Linked DNA regions of Homo sapiens. The protein of the gene in region 1 interacts with the protein of each later gene in a biochemical or structural test. Each region holds a gene or a part of one and is shown in the gene's direction. Other genes may lie near its edges.

Evidence for each region.
Region 2: the proteins of CHAF1B (region 1) and CBX5 interact in a test that uses a peptide from one of them, tested with the Homo sapiens proteins (one study listed by BioGRID).
Region 3: the proteins of CHAF1B (region 1) and ASF1B form a complex in vitro, tested with the Homo sapiens proteins (2 studies listed by BioGRID and IntAct).

Annotation. Positions count from the first base shown.
Region 1 is NC_000021.9:36,381,036-36,388,831, forward strand, and holds the start of CHAF1B (chromatin assembly factor 1 subunit B), read left to right. Parts: upstream 1-4,356; 5' UTR 4,357-4,416; intron 4,417-5,024; 5' UTR 5,025-5,101; coding exon 5,102-5,227; intron 5,228-6,562; coding exon 6,563-6,695; intron 6,696-7,796. UniProt on the Homo sapiens protein: Acts as a component of the histone chaperone complex chromatin assembly factor 1 (CAF-1), which assembles histone octamers onto DNA during replication and repair.
Region 2 is NC_000012.12:54,230,252-54,235,578, reverse strand, and holds the end of CBX5 (chromobox protein homolog 5), read left to right. Parts: 3' UTR 1-4,637; downstream 4,638-5,327. UniProt on the Homo sapiens protein: Component of heterochromatin that recognizes and binds histone H3 tails methylated at 'Lys-9' (H3K9me), leading to epigenetic repression. In contrast, it is excluded from chromatin when 'Tyr-41' of histone H3 is phosphorylated (H3Y41ph).
Region 3 is NC_000019.10:14,126,360-14,134,005, reverse strand, and holds part of ASF1B (histone chaperone ASF1B), read left to right. Parts: intron 1-7,646. UniProt on the Homo sapiens protein: Histone chaperone that facilitates histone deposition and histone exchange and removal during nucleosome assembly and disassembly. Cooperates with chromatin assembly factor 1 (CAF-1) to promote replication-dependent chromatin assembly.

The DNA of each region.
Region 1 (7,796 bases):
GCTATTTGAAGATAATAATCTAGGCACAGATATAGTCATTGTTTCTAGTTAGGCCATTTCTTTTTCTTCTTCTTCTTTTTTTTTTTTTTTTTTTTTTTTCTTTTGCGACAGGTCTTGCTCTGTTGCCCAGGCTGGAGTACAATGGCATAATCATAGCTCACTACATCCTCAAACTCCTGGGCTCAAGTGCTTCGCCTTCCTCAGCCTCCCAAGTACCTGGGACTATAGGTGCATGCCACCATGCCTGGCTGATTTTTTTTTTTTTTTTCTAGATACGGAGTCTTGCTACGTTGCCCACGCTGGTCTTGAACTCCTGGGCTCAAGTGATCCTCCTGCTTCAGCCTCCCAAAATGTTGATATTACCGGCATAAGCCACTGTGCCTGGCCTAGTTTGGGCATTTCTAGGCCTTTTTAGTAGACTGAACTAAAAGAGACTATAATATAGTCTCTTTTGCTGAAAATCTGGGTTCCTAACCACACAAGTATTTGCTCTTCCTAATGTATACATAAATACATAGGTATGCATATATGTAACAATACCAATATTTTCTAGCCATAGTATGACTGAAGGTAAGCTTTCTTTGGGGTAGTATAAAATTTCTGTGTTTGCCAATCACTTGAAATAATAACTCCTTGTGTGCATCACACACATCCATGTTGCTGCCTGTGTCAGTCAGTGTAGAGTTCTCCAGAAAATCGGAGCCCAATATGATAGATGCAAGAGATTGATCAGGAGGAGTGGCTTAAGTGGTTATGGAGTCTGAGAAGTCCCATGATCTGCTGTCTGCAAGATGGAGACCCAAGAAAGCCTGTGGTATAACTTAGTCCCACTCCAAAGCCCTGAGAACCAGGGACACCAGTGGCATAAGTCCTGGAGTCAAAAGACCTGAGAACCAGGAGCTCTGATGTCTGAGGGTGGAAGAGGATGTCCCAACTCAAGAAGAGACAGAATTTGCCCTTCCTCTACTTTTTGTTCTTTTCAGACTCAACAGGTTGGATGATGCCCCAGATACTGCCCAGGTTGGTGAGGGCGGATCTTCTGTACTCAGTCTACTGATTCAAATGCTAAAGTCTTCCAGAAACACCCTCATAGTCAGAAGTAATGTTGACCACCTATCGGGTATGTCTTAGCCCGGGCAAACTGAGGCATAAAATTAACTATCACAGTATTTCTTTTGGATTACCGAGTAGAATACCGTGGTATGAATATGGCACAGTCTGATTACCTTTTCTCCTGTGGGTGGACATTTGGTGTCTTTCTAGTTTGGGGCTATTATGGATAATGATTCTTGTATGAGTTTGCTTTTGTTTTCCTGATATATATGCCAAGGAGTGGAATTGCTGAGTCATAGGGTAGGCGTATCATTAACTTTATTAGACAGTGCTGAACAGTTTTCTAAAGTATTTACATCAGTTTACACTTCCACCAGTAGTGTGCCAGAGGTCCCGTTGTTCTCAATCTCCTGTATTGATTTCCGTCATTTCTATTTTTCTTTTTCTTTCTTTTTTTTTTTTTTTTTTTCAGACTGAGTCTGTTTCTGTCGCCCAGACTGGAGTGCAGTGGCATGATCTTGGCTCACTGCCCTCTGGGTTCAAGTGATTCTAGTGCCTCAGCCTCCGAGTAGCTGGGATTACAGGCGCCACCACCATGCCTGGCTGTTATTATTATTATTATTATTATTATTTTTGAGATGGAGTTCTGCTCTTGTTGCCCAGGCTGGAGTGCAATGGCGCAATCTCGGCTCACTGCAATCTCCGCCTCCCAGGTTGAAACGATTCTCTGGCCTCAGCCTCCTGAGTAGCTGGGATTACAGGTGCCTGCCACCGCGCCTGACCTATTTTTTCTATTTTTAGTAGAGATGGGGTTTCACCATGTTGGCCAGGCTGGTCTCAAATTCCTGACCTCAAGTGATCCGCCCGCTTCAGCCTCCCAGATGCTGCAATTACAGGCGTGAGCCACTACGCCTGGCTTCTCCTAGTTTTCTTATTCTGATATTTGCTCAACATTTTTTTCCAACCCTGTACTGAATTTTGTATGTCTGTTATCAAAGCTTTTTTTTTTTTTTTTTTTGAGACAGAATCTCACTCTGCCACCCAGGCTGGAGTGCAGTGGTGCCATCTCAGCTCACTGCAACCTCCAAGTCCCGGGTTCAATGGATTCTCTTGCCTCAGCCTCCCTAGTATCCCGAGTAGCTGGGATTACAGGCACACACTACCACTCTGTATAGTTTTTGTATTTTTATAGAGAAGGGGTTTTGCCATGTTGGCCAGGCTGGTCTGGAACTCCTAGCCTCAAGCAATCTGCCTGCTTTGGCCTCCCAAAGCGTTGGGATTATAGATGTGAGCCACCATGCCCGGCTCAGATTTTGATTTTAGAATGTTCACACTTACAAATGGAAATTAAAATGCCTTGAGAAGTTTTTTTTCGAAGCTGAGTTAAGAGTTAGTCCCTTTATATCAATTTTCATTATTAAAAAGTTCTCAGGAACCAAATAACATTGGTCCCCTTAAATTGAGGCAGTTCTGCTCAAAATGGATGCTTGGGGCCCAAGCTGAACAACAGTGGTTGTTGAGGAATCTAGTTAGAATTGCGTTATAGGAATTCCCTTTTTTTTTTTTTTTTTTTTTTTTGAGACAGAGTCTCGCTCTCTCGCCCAGGCTGGAGTGCAGTGGCACGATCTCGGCTCACTGCAAGCCCCGCTTCCCGGGTTCACGCCATTGTCTTGCCTCAGCCTCCCGAGTAGCTGGGACTACAGGCGCCCGCCGCCACGCCCGACTAATTTTTTGTAATTTTTGTAGAGATGGGGTTTCACCATGTTAGCCAGGATGGCCTCGATCTCCTGACCTCATGATCCGCCCACCTCGGCCTCCTAAAGTGCTGGGATTACAGGCGTGAGCTACCGCGACCGGCAGGAATTCTTTAGTCCAACATTTGTGGTGCAAACTTTGAGGTTTTGAACAAATACTTTTTTTTTTTTTTTTGAGAAAATATTTGACAGCCCAGGGCCTCTCTCTAGAGCCGCATCCCCTGCCCGTGTTGGCTCATCAAGTTGGCACTGAAGTCGGATCTCTAAAATGTTCGCCAAGAAAGCCAACTCCTTCATGTACTTTTAATACTTAAAGCATGTGTTTTTATCTTTTAAATCCACAGTTCAGAGTCGTGACACTTCAAGAGGTGGGCAGATTATTCATTTGTGAATGAACAGCATTTATGAGAAATTTGGAGAAATTTTATGTTTGAGAGACACGAAGAATCCAGAGCTTTCCAAAACAGACTGATGATCACACCCACCGGGGAGTTTATGAAAATGCAAGCCCCTGGAGCACGGGCCTCTGCTGGATATTCGGAATCATGGGGCTGAGTAGGGCCAGGAATCTGTACTTTTAGAACAGCCATATTATCTAAAGTATATAGTCATTCCCAGTCCAAGCTCTGTAAATCCTGAAGAGAAAAATCTAAAAACTGCATATCCGGATTATGTTATTCTAGCTTCCTGTAGAAATCAGGCTTCAAGGAGCATACAGCCATTCTCATCAACATGAGACACGGATTTGTAGGCAATTTCTGTACCTTTCATAAAGCTGGCTAAAAGCATCAGCCGGTATTTATATAAGAATCCATGTCTGTTCTTTTTTTCCAAAAATCCTAGAGCAGTTGGCTCCTCAGATAACCCTGTGTGTTTCTTTTATCCAGTAAAAGCAGCGCATCCAGAGGTACTTGTTTCCTGGCCTTCTGCGAAGCCCACAGATAAATTAGGTCTCATTTGGAAACGTCCCATTTCGAAAAGCCTGAGGTATCTATCTCTGCCTACCGACTGATTTACAGCCTCACTTTAAAATGTTAGTCTGTTCTTAAAAAGGGTTTATAACTGCATCTACTATAATAATAAAATGTAAGCAACCTTGCGCTAGGTACTGAACAATTTCATAGCTTTGAACTCTCCAAAATGTTCTAGAAGCCAATACAGAAAACCCAAAAATCTCAGTTTTTGTTTGCAGAAGGGGCAAGAGAACCGGTTGTGTTAGCCCTCCAAGTGCCCAGCGCCAGCATAGGGTCTGTCTAACACACAGCCCAGGCTCTGTAAACCTTTGCTAAAAGAGCGAATCAACAAGGAATAAGTAATGGATAATAATAATAAATAATAATGAATCCATTCTTCCTTCGGTCGTGGGTCTGGCAGGCATAAATTCCGGCCGGGATTCCGACCCCAGGGCCAGAGCAGGACTCGCCTTGGCGTCTATGAGTGGGCGGGGCTTCCCTGGGGTACCGCCCACGTCGGGCGGGACCTGAGGGCCGCTGGAGGGGCGGGGCGTCTATGAGGTCCCGCCCATGCGGGGGCGGGGCCTGCGGCGCGCGGGAAGCGGCGCGCGCTGCGCGGGAGGTGACGGTGCCTCTGACTGTCCGGGTCCCTCCAGGTACGGCTTCCCTGGCCCGGGCAGCTCCGCGGCTCTTTTGGTCGCGTCGGTCCGGGCCAGAGGCCCTCGCCGAGGGCGGGCCCCTGGGCCCCGGGATAGCTCCGGAGCGGCGCGCGTTGGGGCGGCGGGGCCCCGTCCACCCCCGGCCCCGCGCGGCCTCCTCCCGGCGGCCTCAGTCCCAGCTTCCCGGGCCCAGCGCCCGGTCCCTGGGAAAGGCGGGGTTCTCCTCTCGCCCCGCCGCCCCGGTCCCCTACCCCGTTTGGCCCCCTCTTCCGGGAGGCTCCTCCCGGGGCGGGCCCCTCCCCGGGCTCTCAGGGCGCGCCCCTAGCCCCTACTAAGCGGGGACAGGCCGTGCAGACGGCCGGGGCCCCTAGGTAGCCTTTACCTGGGTGTTTCGTTTTGCTTTTCTGGATGTAGCGGCGTATCATAAACTTGTGGATGTCAGGACCCAGCGAAGCATTTTAGGTGGAGCTAGCAAGGTGTTATTGTCAGATGGCAACGTTAACATCCTTTCCCAATGCAGTGTGCATTTTAAATGGCTCCTGGCCCCTATTCAGCGCTCAATAACCCTTTGCTGCTGTTAACACTGTTGTTTAATCCATCACCAGCATTTTGCAGCTTTCTCCTGTCTTGAAGAAGTAGAACGGTGCCCGAGAAACGTTTTTCCCCTTCGAGACTCAGGAGGATGAAAGTCATCACTTGTGAAATAGCCTGGCACAACAAGGAGCCCGTGTACAGCCTGGACTTCCAGCATGGGACGGCTGGGAGGATCCACAGACTGGCGTCTGCCGGCGTGGACACCAATGTCAGGGTAAACTGGGGCAGAGATAGACATCCGGGAACACTGCTTGAAGCAATAGTTTTCATTCTTTTACTTAAAACCAGTGTCGGCTGGGCGCGGTGGCTTACGCCTGTAATCCCAGTGCTTTGGGAGGCTGAGGTGAGAGGATCGCTTGAGTCCAGGAGTTCGACACCAGCCTGGGCAACAGCCAGACATGAAAAAGTAGCGGGACGTGGCAGTGTGCAGCTGTAGGCCCAGCTACTTGGGAAGTTGAAGTGAGAGGATCGCTTGAGCCTAGGAGTTTGAAGCAAGCAACGATCACTCCACTGCACTCCAGCCTGGGTGACAGAGCCAGACCCTTCTCTTAAGTAAATGAATGAATGAATTAACGTATGTCAACAAACTAAACTACTTTGTCATCTAGCCCAGAATGCTAAATTTCCAGGGCCTGCGGTGAACAATGAAAGCAAAAGAGAGCTGCTTTCTTTTTTTTTTTTTTGAGACGGAGTCTTGCTCTGTTGCCCAGGTGGGAGTGCAGTGGTGCAATCTCGACTTACTGCAACCTCTGTCTCCCAGGTTCAAGCTATTCTCCTGCCTCAGCCTCCCAAATAACTGGGACTACAGCCGCTCATCACCACACCTGGCTAATTTTTGTATTTTTAGTAGAGATGGGGTTTTACCATGTTGGCCAGGCTGGTCTCAAACTCCTGACCTCAGGTGATCCACCCACCTTGGCCTCCCAAAGTGCTGGGATTACAGGCCTGAGCCACCATGCCCGGCTCTGCTTTCTTATTTGATTCATTTTCCCTAGATTATTGTAACTGGACGTTCATTGTTTTGGGATCCTGATCCTGGTTCCTACTGGGTAACAAGTTGCTCTAGAAAGAAGGCGGAGGGGGACAGTAGACATTTATGTTTTAGATAGGGAGTTCTTTGATTTTATGTTTCAAAAGAAAAACTAAGTTTTCTTTCTGAAAATAAGCATAGTTTTGTTTTTTTTTTTTTTTTGAGACAGGGTCTTACTCTGTCGCCCAGGCTGGAGTGCAGTGGCCTGATCTTGGCTCAGTGCAGCCCCGACCCGGGGCTCAAGTGATCCTCCCTCTTAAGCCTCCCGCATAACTGGAACTACAGGCATGTGCCATCACACTTGGCTAATTTTTTAAATTTTCTGTAGAGACTAGGTCTCACTGTGTTTCCAGGCTGGTCTTGAACTCCTGGCCTCAAGTGATTTACCCACCTTGGCCTCCTAAACTGCTGGGATTACAGTTGTGAGCCACCACACCCAGCCCATAGTATTGTTTTAATACAGACAGTATAATATGTGCCCATTCTATGTTTTTCAAATGAATGTGTTGGTATTGACAGATCTGGAAGGTAGAAAAGGGACCAGATGGAAAAGCCATCGTGGAATTTTTGTCCAATCTTGCTCGTCATACCAAAGCCGTCAATGTTGTGCGTTTTTCTCCAACTGGGGAAATTTTAGCATCGGGAGGAGATGGTGAGTATTGCTGTCCTTCAGAGATTCTTCGGGAACCAGATAGATACCTGTGTGTCTTGTGTCAGATAGTGAGATTTGAGCTGGATATGCTTTTTTTTTTTTTTTGAGATAGAGTTTCACTCTTGTTCCCCAGGCTGGAGTGCAGTGGTGCAAACTCGACTCACTGCAACCTCCGCCTCCTGGGTTCAAGCGATTCTCCTGCCTCAGCCTCCTGAGTAGCTGGGATTACAGGCGCCTGCCACCACGCCCGGCTAGTTTTTTTGTGTGTTTTTAGTAGAGACAGGGTTTCATCATGTTGGTCAGGCTGATCTCGAACTCCTGACCTCAGGTGATCCACCTGCCTCGGCCTCCCAAAGTGTTGGGATTACAGGCGTGAGCCACTGCGCCCGGCCTGGATATGCTTTTTAGTTCAGGTGTGGCTGACCCTCTCAATCTGTCATTTAGGTAGTTCAGTAAAATACTGTTCTAGGGAATGTGGTAGAGTCAGGGAGGGAGGACAGCAAGATGAAACCAGGAACACCTGTTTGAAAACAGCTGCTTTCCCGCAAGCTCCCACCAGGCTGTTCTAAGACGAGATGGAAAGGCACTTACCATTCTGTCACATCCCAAGCAAGGCGACTGTTCTGGTTTTGTTGGATTGTTAGTTTAACATCTGTGGTGATCAGAGTCAGTTCTGTGTCTCTGTGTAATTAATTAAATGGCTTTAGGACTGTGTTAGTAATTAATTGGCTTTGGGAGTTTTTTTTTTTTTTTTTTTTGAGACAGTCTCACTGTTATCTAGGCTGGAGTGCAGTGGCACAATCTTGGCTCACTGCAACCTCTGCCTCCCAGGTTCAAGCGATTCTCCTGCCTCAGCCTCACAAGTAGCTGGGATTACAGGCGCCTGCCACCACCCCCGGCTAATTTTTGTATTTTTAGTAGAGATGGGGTTTCGCCTTGTCAGCCAGGCTGGTCTCAAACTCCTGAGCTCAGGCAATCTGCCTGCCTCGGCCTCCCAAAGTGCTAGGATTACAGGCGTGAGCCACCGCGCCCGGGCTATTTGGGCATGAATTCTAAACTGGGATATGAAAGAATTCAGCAATGGCAAAGTTCCTCATGGAG
Region 2 (5,327 bases), on another chromosome or scaffold:
GCAGTGGCGCAATCTCGGCTCACTGCAAGCTCCACCTCCCGGGTTCACGCCATTCTCCTGCCTCAGCCTCCCGAGGAGCTGGGACTACAGGCGCCGGCCACCACGCCCGGCTAATTTTTTGTATTTTTAGTAGAGACGGGGTTTCACCTTGTTAGCCAGGATGGTCTCAATCTCCTGACCTCATGATCCACCCACCTCGGCCTCCCAGAGTGCTGGGATTACAGGCGTGAGCCACCGCCGGGCCGAGAGGGTGATTTCTAAGCAGAGAATTGTATCAGTTATGTGGAAACCTTTGCCAGAAATACATATACCTTGTATATTAAATCTGAGTCTCAGATTTAATCATCGAAGCGTAGCTGGGTTAAGAAACAGTCTGATCGTAAGGATGTTGTCGATTCTGACCCATGGATGACCACAAGAAAAAGATATTTATTTCTGCCTGGATAATTGAGAGTTGACTAACTTTGGAAGTCAGAATTCCCAGGAATTAGAGTAACTGCTCTGGAAAGTTAAAGTGTGAAGTTTTTTAGATAGTTTCATAAAAACAATTCTGGTTTCTTTTTGCTTGTGCTGACTTTCTTGGATTTTAATCTACCTCATCTTGTCTTTTTAGAGTTACTTCAACTTGTCACTTTAACATTGTGCTTGACTTTGGTTGTTTTCTAAGATGGAATTTTTCCTGTTCATTGACAGCTTGTTCTCTTGCCTTTTCATTCTGATCCTCATTTCATCTAACATCATCTCATATTGCTCCTCTGTCAAGAGAAATGTTTTAAAATAGTTTAAAGTCTTGTTTTATGGGAAGAAAGTGATCCTCCAATGCTATTTGTTTCTGAGGTCAGTAAGAGAAGGAGTTAAAACAAGGCAGTGGGGAAGGGAATGAATCCTGCACTGGAGGCAAAAGCTGACAAGGAAAGAGCCATTAATTAAGACAATTTCAAAGTCAACTGATTGTGATCATTAATGTCACAATAGATCAAAACCTAATTATCACAGCCTAGGTAAGAGCCATCAGTATTAATCGGAAAATCTAATAGGAAACTATTATCAAGAAATTAGGCCAAATTGAATGCAGTGAACTTTTTATCTTGGCATTCTCTATTTTTTTGTGATGTCCCCTGGCATTGGCAGGTGTGACCCTAACAGTCGATTCAAGGCCAAGTGGTCAGTTTGTCAGCCTTTTTTAAGGGATTTCTTTTTATTTTTAGGAATTCCAAACAGAGTTAACCTAAACTGTCATTGCCAAAAGATCAGTCTTAAACTTTCTTAGCACCTGTACCTGTTTAATGTGATCAGCTATCAGTGAGGAAAAAAAAAAAAATCTATTTAGGTCTTGGAATGGTTCCTGTACCTAGAGTATCCATATTGAACCTTTTTTTTTTTTTTTTTTTTTTTTTTTTGAGATGGAAACTTGCTCTTTTGCCCAGGCTGGAGTGCAGTGGCGTGATCTTGGCTCACTGCAACCTCCGCCTCCCGGGTTCAAGCAGTTCTCTGCCTCAGCCTCCTGAGCAGCTGGGATTATAGGCGCCTGCCACCATGCCCGGCTAATTTTTGTATTTTTAGTAGAGACAGGGTTCACCATCTTGGCCGTGCTGGTCTTGAACTCCTGACCTTGTGATCCGCCTGCCTCGGCCACTCAAAGTGCTGGGATTGCAGGCGTGAGCCAGCACCCGGCCACAGTATCTTTATTACAGCTCACTGCAGCCTCAATCTCCTGGGCTCAAATGATCCTCCTGCCTCAGCCTCCCAAGCAGCTGGGACTACAGGCGCACACCACGGTGTCTGGCTAATTTTATTATTTAAAAAATGTTTTGTAGAGACAGTCTCCCTGTGTTGCCCAGGCTGGTCTCCAACTCGTGAGCTCAAGTGATCCACGTGCCTCAGCCTCCCAAAGTGCTGGGATTACAAGCATAAGCCACCGCACCCGGCCCCTAGTGAACATTTTACTGTATGTGTTGATAAATCATCTTTTGAGTTTCTGTTGTATGTGGGGACTTCCTACACTGGCTGCTGTGAAGAGGTATGGAAGAAAGGAGAGGCTTTCTGCCTAGAAATTCTTTGAGAACACCTGAAAAGACAGTTTAATCATGTCACAACACTCTTAAGGCTCAAGTCAGTGTTCTGGTTTCCGGTAGCTTTAGGATTGGATTCTAAACGAGGGCTGGTGGTGAGTTTGGTGTTTGTCTCGTGTCACCCTCACCCCTCACCTCCTCAGTTTAGGATAAGAGACATAATGATTTCTACCAGAATCCAAAGTAAATCCAAAGGGGGAGAAAAGACATAACTGTTTTTTCTTCTACCTTTTTTTTGTTAAAGAGTTACATCTCTCACAGGAGGAAAGAATTCAAGAGTCTATATGATTAGTTACAGAGAATATTTTCATCCCCTCTCCCTGAATAGAAAAGCAGGGGTCACCATTTGTATCCTTACCCTTGAGGTGTTTTTGAAGATGCTGTAACTCTTGAAGTTGAGCTGAGGCAGAAAGGTTGGAAAAATGCAGCCCTCTGGGTATTGTGGGGAGGGATGTGATGTAGTAAGAGGGTGTTTTGTGGTGCTAGGATTCCCACGCCACCAACTTGCAGCTTTATAAGAGCGCTACCAAGAACCACCACTGGGGAAAAGGTTCTTATTCATTGTTTCTGTTGGAATGTGATCTTGCTTTCTGGATTTTAGGAATTCAGGTTACTCAGTATAAAACTCTGAGAAATCAGTGTGACTTAGTCCTTCACCTCCTAAGATAAAGTGAATATTTCTTTACAAAATAATTCATGTCCTTAATGTTAAAGATGTAATTTTATTTTCAAAACATCTATAACATGACTTTCAGAAGCAGTTCATTTTTCCAAGATTCCTCACATTATACTAGATAAATAATAGGCCCTCAGTTAATACCCTTCAGTTATTGAATTAATCTAGTTTGTGGAATGAGGTGTATCCTGCCAACTTCCCTCTGCTCCCAAGTACACTCTGAGAGGTAAAATGCTCTGGGAAATGGAACAAGAATCGAGTGGATGCTGACTCTGTGTGCCCACCTCCTCAACTGATTGATAATGGTTGACCTTGGGCAAGTCACTTCTTTCAATGCCTCAGTTCCCCATCTGTCAAATGGGGTTAATAATACTGACCTACCTCACAGGGGTGTTGTTGTGAGGCATTGTAAATCAAAGTTAATAGAATACTTCAGGGTCCTCTGTGGAGGATGTCTTGAGCCAGAGTTTAAGCCTGACACACAGGCTTTGGTCCTCACTGAGCTGTCTCCAAGACTGGAACTACTTAGTGACTCGGCAAATTTTCTGCCCCCCACCCCTCATCAAAGCTGCTAGTTCAGATGTTGACAGTGTTTTCATGAATGTTGGAATCTTACTAGTCCAGACTTACTTAGGATGTTGTTGGGGAAGGCACTTGGGATTTTCTGTGTCTTGCATTCACAGAGGGAGGCCATTTCAGATTCAAGAGCATTGGATTAGGGAATCGTGAGGCAGGGATGCTACTGCGTATTTCTCTCTGCAGGTTGGGGATTAAAGTTCCTTTCCCCATGGGTTTGAAGCAGACTCAGACTGTCTCAGGATCAAAGCAACCCTCAATGGTTTTGATTTATGTCATTGCTTACCACTCCCCAACCAATCCCAGGACAGCTGGGTCACTGTACCCCTTTGTGGTATCTGTACCTGGGCCTCTCCTTCCTCATAGGGACCAGCTGATTGAATAAATGTGACCACCTTATTTCCACCCCCCACCCCCAAAAGCTACATTGGAATTATTTTTCCTAGAAATGTGTATAACACTCAGAATTGGGCATTGATCCTTAAAGCTTCATCCCATTCACCGTATTCAACATCTGTCATCTCTTAGTGTCTGCAGTCTGAACCTAACCTTGACCTTTTTTCCCTCTGGTTTGAGAAAACTTTGGACACTATTTCTACTTGGCCAGGTGTGGGCTCAAGAGCCTTACTCTTTCCATCTCAGTTTAGGGGCGCAGCCAGCTCCTCTTCCCAATAGGGCTCTTTCTGCTTTCCCTCTCCTTGGCCCTAGATTTGTAATCCATGAAAAAGCACAAGGTCCTGGCTCCTTGCGGTCACATTCTGGTTCTCTGTGTTTTGTGGACTCTGCTCTCACTGTTCACCCAGCACTAGCAGTACCAGATGGTTCTGTGGAGTCCTGGGGAATGGAGAGAGCACAGTCTGACTCCCTGCCAAGTAGCCAGGAGTTGACTTGCCCATGGTCCGCTGGCTTTCCCACCACTTCCTACAGGATGGGATCTAAGAGACTCAAGAGCTGGGTTTCTTTCAGCACTCTGTACTGTCCCAAATAGCAAACAAATCACTTTGTAGCCAGATTTCTGAATGGAAATGAGAAATTGAATTCTCCATGGACTTTTAGGTTTATGGGGGAGTTTTAGCTGTGTTTCTTGGTTTTATTTCAGCCAAACATGTCTGCTTTTGATTTTTTTTTTAAAGTATAAGTGGTCTATATATATGTTCACCTTTTAAATGTAAATGTTTAAAAAGTAAGCATTTATGTGTTTCCATAACTGACATCTGATGCAGACCTCATTCTCTCCCCCTCTTCTACCCTCCTCTTTTCCCCCTTTTCATACTCTTGTATTGGTTCTAATAAATGGTTGCTTTTCAAATATGGATTCTGAGTGGTGGTTTAAAGATCTGGGTCTTATGCCCCTTCTTTAATTTGGGCCCTGGAGTGTCAGCTCAATTTCTGAAAGAGCAACAAGACTTGGAGAACATGGGCTTCTTTTCTAAGGATTATTGGTCTCTGACTTTCTGCAAATAACCACAGGTTGGCGCAAGCCTGAGGAAATAAGATAATGCGTATCCTGTTTCCTACTCTTATTTCCTTAACTGGTTCAGTGTGTACCTTTCCTGGTTTCCATGCTCTTCTCTGCTCCTAATGGTTCAGAGAATAAATATTAGGCTTCAGCAACCTAGGGATCCCTGGAAGAGTCATCTCATGGCTATTAGAACTTATGGAATACCACATCAAGCAAATGCAGTCTAAATCAGGTTTGAAAATATGTGAATTTGTAAACTTTGTATTTTATCTTTCTGATTTGCTTCACAAATACCAAAGAAACTTCTCTGAGGATGGAAGGCTTGCAGGTCAGGAACATGGTGTGAGGTCAGTTGGAAGTTAGGAGGAGGAAAGTATGTGGATAATCAAGAAATTATCGAATAATATAAGCCTGATGTAGCCCTGAATCTAATGGAGATAGGCAGAAACTCACAGAAGAGAGAAGTGAGGAAGATGAAGGGGTCACCAAACCCAGATATCCTCCCACTGATATGTGAGGCCTCTGGAGCGGAGCACTTGTT
Region 3 (7,646 bases), on another chromosome or scaffold:
GGTGAAACCCCGTCTCTACTAAAAAACACAAAAAATTAGCCGGGCGTGGTGGCGGGCGCCTGTAGTCCCAGCTACGCGGGAGGCTGAGGCAGGAGAATGGCGTGAACCCGGGAGGCGGAGCTTGCAGTGAGCCGAGATCGCGCCACTGCACTCCAGCCTGGGCGACAGAGCGAGACTCCGTCTCAAAAAAAAAAAAAAAAAAAAAAAATGGTTGTGCGGTCATTATCTGGTACTTCTACTCCTAGGAAGCCCCTGCCCTGTGACTTTACTAACTTATTTATAGAATTAGAGCCGGAAGGGCTAAATTCAACCTGCTGGTCCTTTTTTTGTTTTTTTGGAGATGAAGTCTTGCTCTTGTCCCCCAGGCTGGAGTGCAATGGCGCGATCTTGGCTCACTGCAACCTCCACCTCCCAGATTCAAGCGATTCTCCTGCCTCAGCCTCCCGAGCAGCTGGGATTACAGGTGCCTGCTATGACGCCTGGCTAATTTTTGTATTTTTAGTAGAGACGGGGTTTCACCATCTTGGCCAGGCTGGTCTTGAACTCCTGACCTCAGGTGATCCGCCCGCCTCAGCCTCCCAAAGTGCTGGGATTACAGGCGTGAGCCACTGCGTCCAGCCTCTGCTGATCATTTTTTAATAGAAATGGAGTGACTTCACCAGAGTCACACAGCCAGTTTGTAGAAGTATTGGCACTGAAGTTTTGAATCTAAATTCTTTATCTTTGCTCCAATCCAGGGAAAGAAAGGAAGGATTCCCTGTTTCAGGGGTGGAGCATAGATAGGAATGACCACAGAATTTATTGCCTAATCAGGACACTCAAAATGCAGTGAAGGGAAGTGCTATTATTATTATTTATTTATTTATTTATTTATTTATTTATTTTTGAGATGGAGTCTCGCTGTGTCACCCAGGCTGGAGTGCAGTGGCGTGATCATGGCTCATTGCAAGCTCCGCCTCCCGGGTTCACGCCATTCTCCTGCCTCAATCTCCCAAGTAGCTGGGACTACAGGCGCCCGAAACCATGCCCAGCTAACTTTTTGGATTTTTAGTAGAGACGGGGTTTCACTGTGTTACCCAGGATGGTCTCGATTTCCTGACCTTGTGATCCGCCCGCCTCGGCCTGGGATTACAGGCGTGAGCCACCGTGCCCGTCGTATGATTATGATGATGATGATGATTATTATTAGAAATGGAATCTCACTATGTCACCCAGGCTACAGTGCAGTGGTGCAATCTCAGCTCACTGCAATCTCCACCTCTCGAGTTCAAGCGATTCTCCGGCCTCAGTATCCCAAGTAGTTGGGATTACAAGCTTGAGCCACCATGCCCGGCTAATTTTTGTGTCTTTAGTAGAGACGAGGTTTCACCATGTTGGCCAGGCTGGTCTCAAACCTGATCGCAAGTGATATGCCCACTTCAGCCTCCCAAAGTGCTGGGATTACACTTTGAATCCTAAGCGCCTGGCCAGAGAATGCTATTGTTAATTGTACCTGGATGATAAAGCTTTTCCTTTGAGTAACTCAAGTGAGAAATCCTGGCTCTTCCAGTCCTAGGGCTCTCTGTGACTGATCTGCCAGCTTGCTTTCTGCCTCCTTCTGGACTCCTCTCCATGAAAAAGGGAGAATCTGCCTCACTCTCAGCAGCGTCAACTGAAAATCTGACAAAACCCCCAACCCAGCTGTGTGAGGTGGCTCATGCCTGTAATTCCAGCACTTTGGGAGGCTAAGGAAGGAGGATCTCTTGAGCCCAGGAATTTGGGCCAGCCTGGGTAACATAGCAAAACCTTGTCTCTACAGAAACATCAAAAAATTAACGGGACTTGGTGGCACGTGTCTGTGGTCCCAGCTACTCAGGAGGCTGAAGTGGGAGGATTGCATGAGCCCAGGAGGTCAGGGCTGCAGTGAGCCATGATTGCACCACTGCACTCCAACCTGGGTGAGAGAGCAAGACCCCCATCTCAAAAAAAAAAAAAAAAAAAACCACCCTAACCCCTAAGCCCCAGTTGGGTGACCCCTATTTCTCAGGGGCCCCAAGCCCCCTTTGCACTTTTATCTTCCACATCTGGAAATAGATTCTTCCACATTTAGCTGAGAAATTCAACAGACACTGGTTGAATAAGTCATAGAAGCCAGATGTTCTGACCCAGAAATAACGAAGTTGTTATGGCAGCAGAGCTCATCTTTGATTATGAACAAAGGCAAAAAGCAAACAAACAAAGGAGGCCTGGCATGGTGGCTCACGCCTGTAATCCCAGCACTTTGGGAGACCAAGGCGGGCAGATTACCTGAGGTCAGAAGTTCGAGACCAGCCTGGCCAACATGGTGAAACCCCGTCTCTACTAAAAATACAAAAAATTAGCCGGGTGTGGTGGCGGGCGCCTGTAGTCCCAGCTACTCGGGAGGCTGAGGCAGGAGAATGGCGTGAACCCAGGAGGCAGAGCTTGCAGCGAGCCGAGATTGCACCACTGCACCCCAACCTGGGCAACAAAGCAAGACTCCATCTCAAAAAAAAAAAAAAAGAAAAAGCCAGGTGTGGTGGCTCACACCTGTAATCCCAGCACTTTGGGAGGCCGAGGCGGATGGATCACAAGGTCAGGAGTTCGAGACCAGCCTAACCGACGTGGTGAAACCCCGGCTCTACTAAATACAAAAATTAGCCAGGCATGGTGGCACGCAGCTATAATCCCAGCTACTCAGGAGGCTGAGGCAGAAGAATCGCTAGAACCCGGGAGGCAGAGGTTGCAGTGAGCTGAGATTGTGCCACTGCACTCCAACCTGGGTGACAGAGCGAGACTCTGTTTCAAAAAAAAAAAAAGAAAAAAAAAATGGCCAGGCACAGTGGCTTACCCCTGTAATCCCAGCATTTTGGGAGACCAAGGCAGGTGGATCATCTGAGGTCAGGAGTTTGAGACCAGCCTGGCCAATGTGGTGAAACCCTGTCTCTACTAAAAATACAAAAGTTAGCCAGGCTTGGTGGCAGGTGCCTGTAGTCCCAGCTATTTGGGAGGCTGAGGCAGGAGAAGCGCTTGAACCCGGGAGATGGAAATTGCAGTGAGCCCAGATTGCGCCATTGCACTCCAGCCTGGGCGACAGAGCAAGACTGTCTCAAAAAAACAACAACAAAAAAGCAGGAAGCAGACTTTTTAGCTAGTTCAGCTATACTAATTGTGTACATGTCTTTAGTCTTATCATTTATATATATATATATATATATATACACACAAACACACAGTGGAGGTATGTCTTGCACAGGGACTAGCTTGTGAAGTTAGCGCAGAGAGATAACATGGGACACAGTTGAGTTGCCTTGACATTGCTCAGAAGGTTAGGTACACACGTCATGTGTACAGCTGTGTCCTGTACTCATAGCTATGAGTTCCTGCTGTATTGGTGATTTGTGTCCCATGTATAATTCTAAAGAAAGATTATATTTAGAGATGAAATCATACACGTATGTCTCTACTTATAACACTGCAGCCAGATTTTTTTTTTTTTTTTTAAAGAGATAGGGTGTCACTATGTTGCCCAGACTGGACTTGAACTCCTGGGCTTAAGCAGTCCTCCCACCTCAGCTTCCTAAGTAGCTGGAACCACAGGTGCACATCACCATGCCTGGGCACTTCAGCAAATTTAAGATGATTCTCGACTGGGCATAGTGGCTCATGCCTGTAATCCCAGCACTTTGGGAGGCCAAGGCAGGCGGATCACAAGGTCAGGAGATCGAGACCATCTTGGCTAACACAGTGAAACCCCGTCTCTACTAAAAATAGAAAAAAAAATTAGCCGGGCGTGGTGGGGGGTGCCTGTAGTCCCAGCTGATTAGGAGGCTGAGGCACAAGAATGGCATGAACCCGGGAGGCGGAGCTTGCAGTGAGCCGAGATCGTGCCACTGCACTCTAGTCTGGGCAACAGAGTGAGACTCCATGTCAAAATAAAATAAAATAAATTAGAATTACAGGTGCACACCACCACGCCCAGCTAATTTTTTATATTTTTAGTAGAGATGGAGTCTCACTCTGTCACCCAGGCTGGAGTGCAGAGGCACGATCTCAGTTCACTGCAACCTCAGCCTCCCGAGTAGCTGAGACTACAGGGGCATGCCACCACGCCTGGCTAATTTTTTGTATTTTTTGTATCACCATGTTGCCCAGGCTGATCTCGAACTTCTGAGCTCAAGCAATCCACCCGCCTCAGCCTCCCAAAGTGCTAGGATTACAGCCATGATCCAATGATCCACCTCACCTGGCCCTATACCTATAACTCTTTTTTTCTTCCTTTCTTTCCTTCTTTCTTCTTTTTTTTTTTTTTTTTTTTTTTTTTTTTTTTGACGGAGGCTGGCTCTGTTGCCCAGGCTGGAGTGCAGTGGCAAAATCTCGGCTCACTGCAATCTCTGCTGCCTCCCAGGTTCAAGCAGTTCTTATGCCTCAGACTCCTGAGTAGCTGGAATTACAGGTGCACACCATCATGCCCAGCTAAATTTTTATATTTTTAGTAGAGATGGGGTTTCACCATGTTGCCCAGGTTGGTCTCGAACTCGTGAGCTCAGGCAATCTGCCTGCCTCGGCCTCCCAAAGTGCTAGGATTACAGGTGTGAGCTGCCGTGCCCAACCAGCTTCTGTAACTCTTGAGTCAGTATTTCTCTACAGCCGTTAGTTAATTCTCCAGTTTCTTTCCAGCCCTGGTTGAAAGAGCCATTTCAGCCCCTGTGCCTGACAGTCAACACAGTACATTTTTTCTTTTTCTTTTTTTTCCTTTGAGATAGGGTCTCTGTCGTCCAGGCTGGAATGCAGTGGCTCGATCATGGCTCACTGCAGCCCTGAACTCCTAGGCTCAAGCGATCCTCCAACCTTAGCCTCCCGCATAGCTGGGACCACCGGCACGCGCCACCACACCCAATTAATTTTGTTGATTTTTAATAGAGTCGAGTCTGCCTATGTTGCAGGGGCCCATTTATTTCGGTGAGTTTCCACATGCTCTTTGTTTAGGTTTTGCCGATTAGTATTGACCTCAGCTGGACAACATCAGGTGCTCGTGGGTACACTTTAGTCTTTTTTGTCTACCTTCCCAGGACATGAATTAAATGCACCCGTACAGGATTCTACCGGCTATGAGAGGAAAGGGCTCAAGGATATACACCAAAATGATACAACTGCTTTAGAAAGGAGAGAGCAGGGCTGGCTGGCTTTTCTGTCTTCCCCCAAAACTTGATTCCAGTTGTGTCACTACTTGTAACAAAAATAAATCAACAGGCTGGACATGATGGCTCAGACAAATTCCAGCACTTTGGGAGGCCAAGGCGGGAGGATTGCTTGAGACCAGGCTGGGCAACCAAGCAAGACCTCATCTCTAAAAACAATTTAAAAATTCCCTGGGCGTGTGGCACAAGCCTGTGGTCCCAGCTACTTGGGAGGCTAAGGCAAGAGAATCACTTGAGCGCAGGAATTTGTGGCTGTAGTGAGCTATGATTATGCCACTGCACTGCAGCCTGGGTGACGGACCGAGACCCCATCTCCAGTGAAAAAAGTCAACTTCCTCCCTGCAAATAGTAAGAGGCTAGTTCGACCAAACACCTGTGAGTTCAATGGTCACCCGTATCCTACAGACCTGCTATAGGGTTCCTGAGTGAAACCACAAAGGGACAGGCAGCCAGTGCATCAAAGAAGGGCATGGGGCTCAGGTGACAAGCCTCTGTAGTCATGACCTGGCAGCAGCATGCTTCCAAAGTTGGATGCTCTTGTGGGACACTGGACCAAGGAACAGGGCAGCTTCTGAGAGAGTTTGCTTCCTGTGAAAATCACAGCTTGTGAAACTTCCCCCAGCTGCTAGAGCTGAAGGGTTGTGTAATTTCTAAAGAGCCAAAAATAAGTTTCAAGCCTCTTGCCAAGCCTCCCTGTACCAGCATGACCTTGCCCCTGATACACTTGGACCTCCTGCAAGAGGCCATGTTGACCGGAATTTCCTGTGATTGACAGCCAGAGGTTCCATAAGCACTTTCCTTTCATCTCAATGGAGCATATTCAGGGGAGGGGGCCCTCCTGCTGGATGGGGTGCAAGAGTTAGGGTTTGAGGCTGGGCACGGTGGCTCACACCTGTAATCCCAGCACTTTGGGAGGCGGAGGCGGATGGATGACCTGAGGTCAGGAGTTCGAGACCAACCTGGCCAACATGGTGAAACCCCATCTCTACTAAAAATACAAAACATTAGCCGGCTGTGGTGGCGGGCGCCTATAATCCCAGCTACTCAGGAGGCTGAGGCAGGAGAATCACTTGAACCCGGGAGGCAGAGGTTGCAGTGAGCCGAGATCTCACCATTGCACTCTAGCCTGGACAACAAGAGTGAAACTGTCAAAAAAAAAAAGTGTTTGGAGGATCACCCCGGGATGCCACATTTGTTGACTGAGTTGCCCAAATGTCTCTAAGTAGGCATGACTTGGTGCCAGATCTGGAAGACCAGGGTGGCTGGCTCCCTGAGCAACCTCACCTTCCCCCTCCTGCAGGCTGGCTCTCCTGCCGGATTGGAATCTGCCACCCTGCCCCAGTTGTCGAGGGATCCACTTCGTTGAGTGGCACCGGTCCCTGTGTGTGAAAGAGGATGCTGCTTCCTATCCCAGCACCCAGTGGGCAGGGCCCTGAAATGACCCAACTCCCTGCCGTTCCCTTCTCAGCACGTCTGTGTCACGTGGCTCTTAATTCAGCCTCTGCCATACAGTTCACGCTCAGGCCTTGAGAGGCCCAGGTTTCCCCAGAGGTATAGTCAAGGTCACCTGTCATAGCTAGGCTTACAAGACAGAATTCCCTAATGGAGGTAGAGCTTTGTGCCCACCTCAGCATTCAAGACTGCAGTGCCTGGCACTAAGTGTCTGACAGATGGAATAATAGTCTTTTAACATATTAAGGATCTGTCTAAAATTACCACAAGGCTGGGCACAGCAGCCCACACCTGTGATCCCAACATGGTGGGAGTCCGAGGCAGGAGGATCGCTTGAGCCCAGGAGGTTGAGGCTACAGTGAGCCATGAACATCCCGCTGCACACCAGCCTAGGCAACAGAGGGAGACTGTCTCAAAAAATAAGTAAATAAAAATAAAATAGAAGATGTGGCCGGGCGCAGTGGCTCACACCTGTAATCCCACCAGTTTGGAAGGCTGAGGCGGGCAGATCACTTGAAGTCAGGAGTTGGATACCAGCTTGGCCAACATGGTGAAACCCCATCTCTACTAAAAATACAAAAACAGGCCAGGTACAGTGGCTCACACCTGTCATCCCAGCACTTTGGGAGGCCAAGGCGGGTGGATCACCTGAGGTCAGGAGTTCTAAACCAGCCTGATCAACATGGTGAAACCCTGTCTCTACTAAAAATAAAAAAATTAGCCAGCCATGATGGCAGGTGCCTGTAATTCCAGCTACTCAGTAGGCTGAGACAGGAGAATCGCTTGAACCTGGGAGGCAGAGATTGCAGTGAGCCAAGATCACACCATTGTACTCCAACCTGGGTGACAAGAGTGAAACTCCATCTCAAAAAAGAAAAAAAAAATTAGCTAGGCGTGGCAGCGGGCACCTATAATCCCAGCCACTCGGGAGGCTGAGGTATGAGAATCACTGGAACCTGGGAGGCGGAAGTTGCAGTGAGCTGAGATCGCATCACT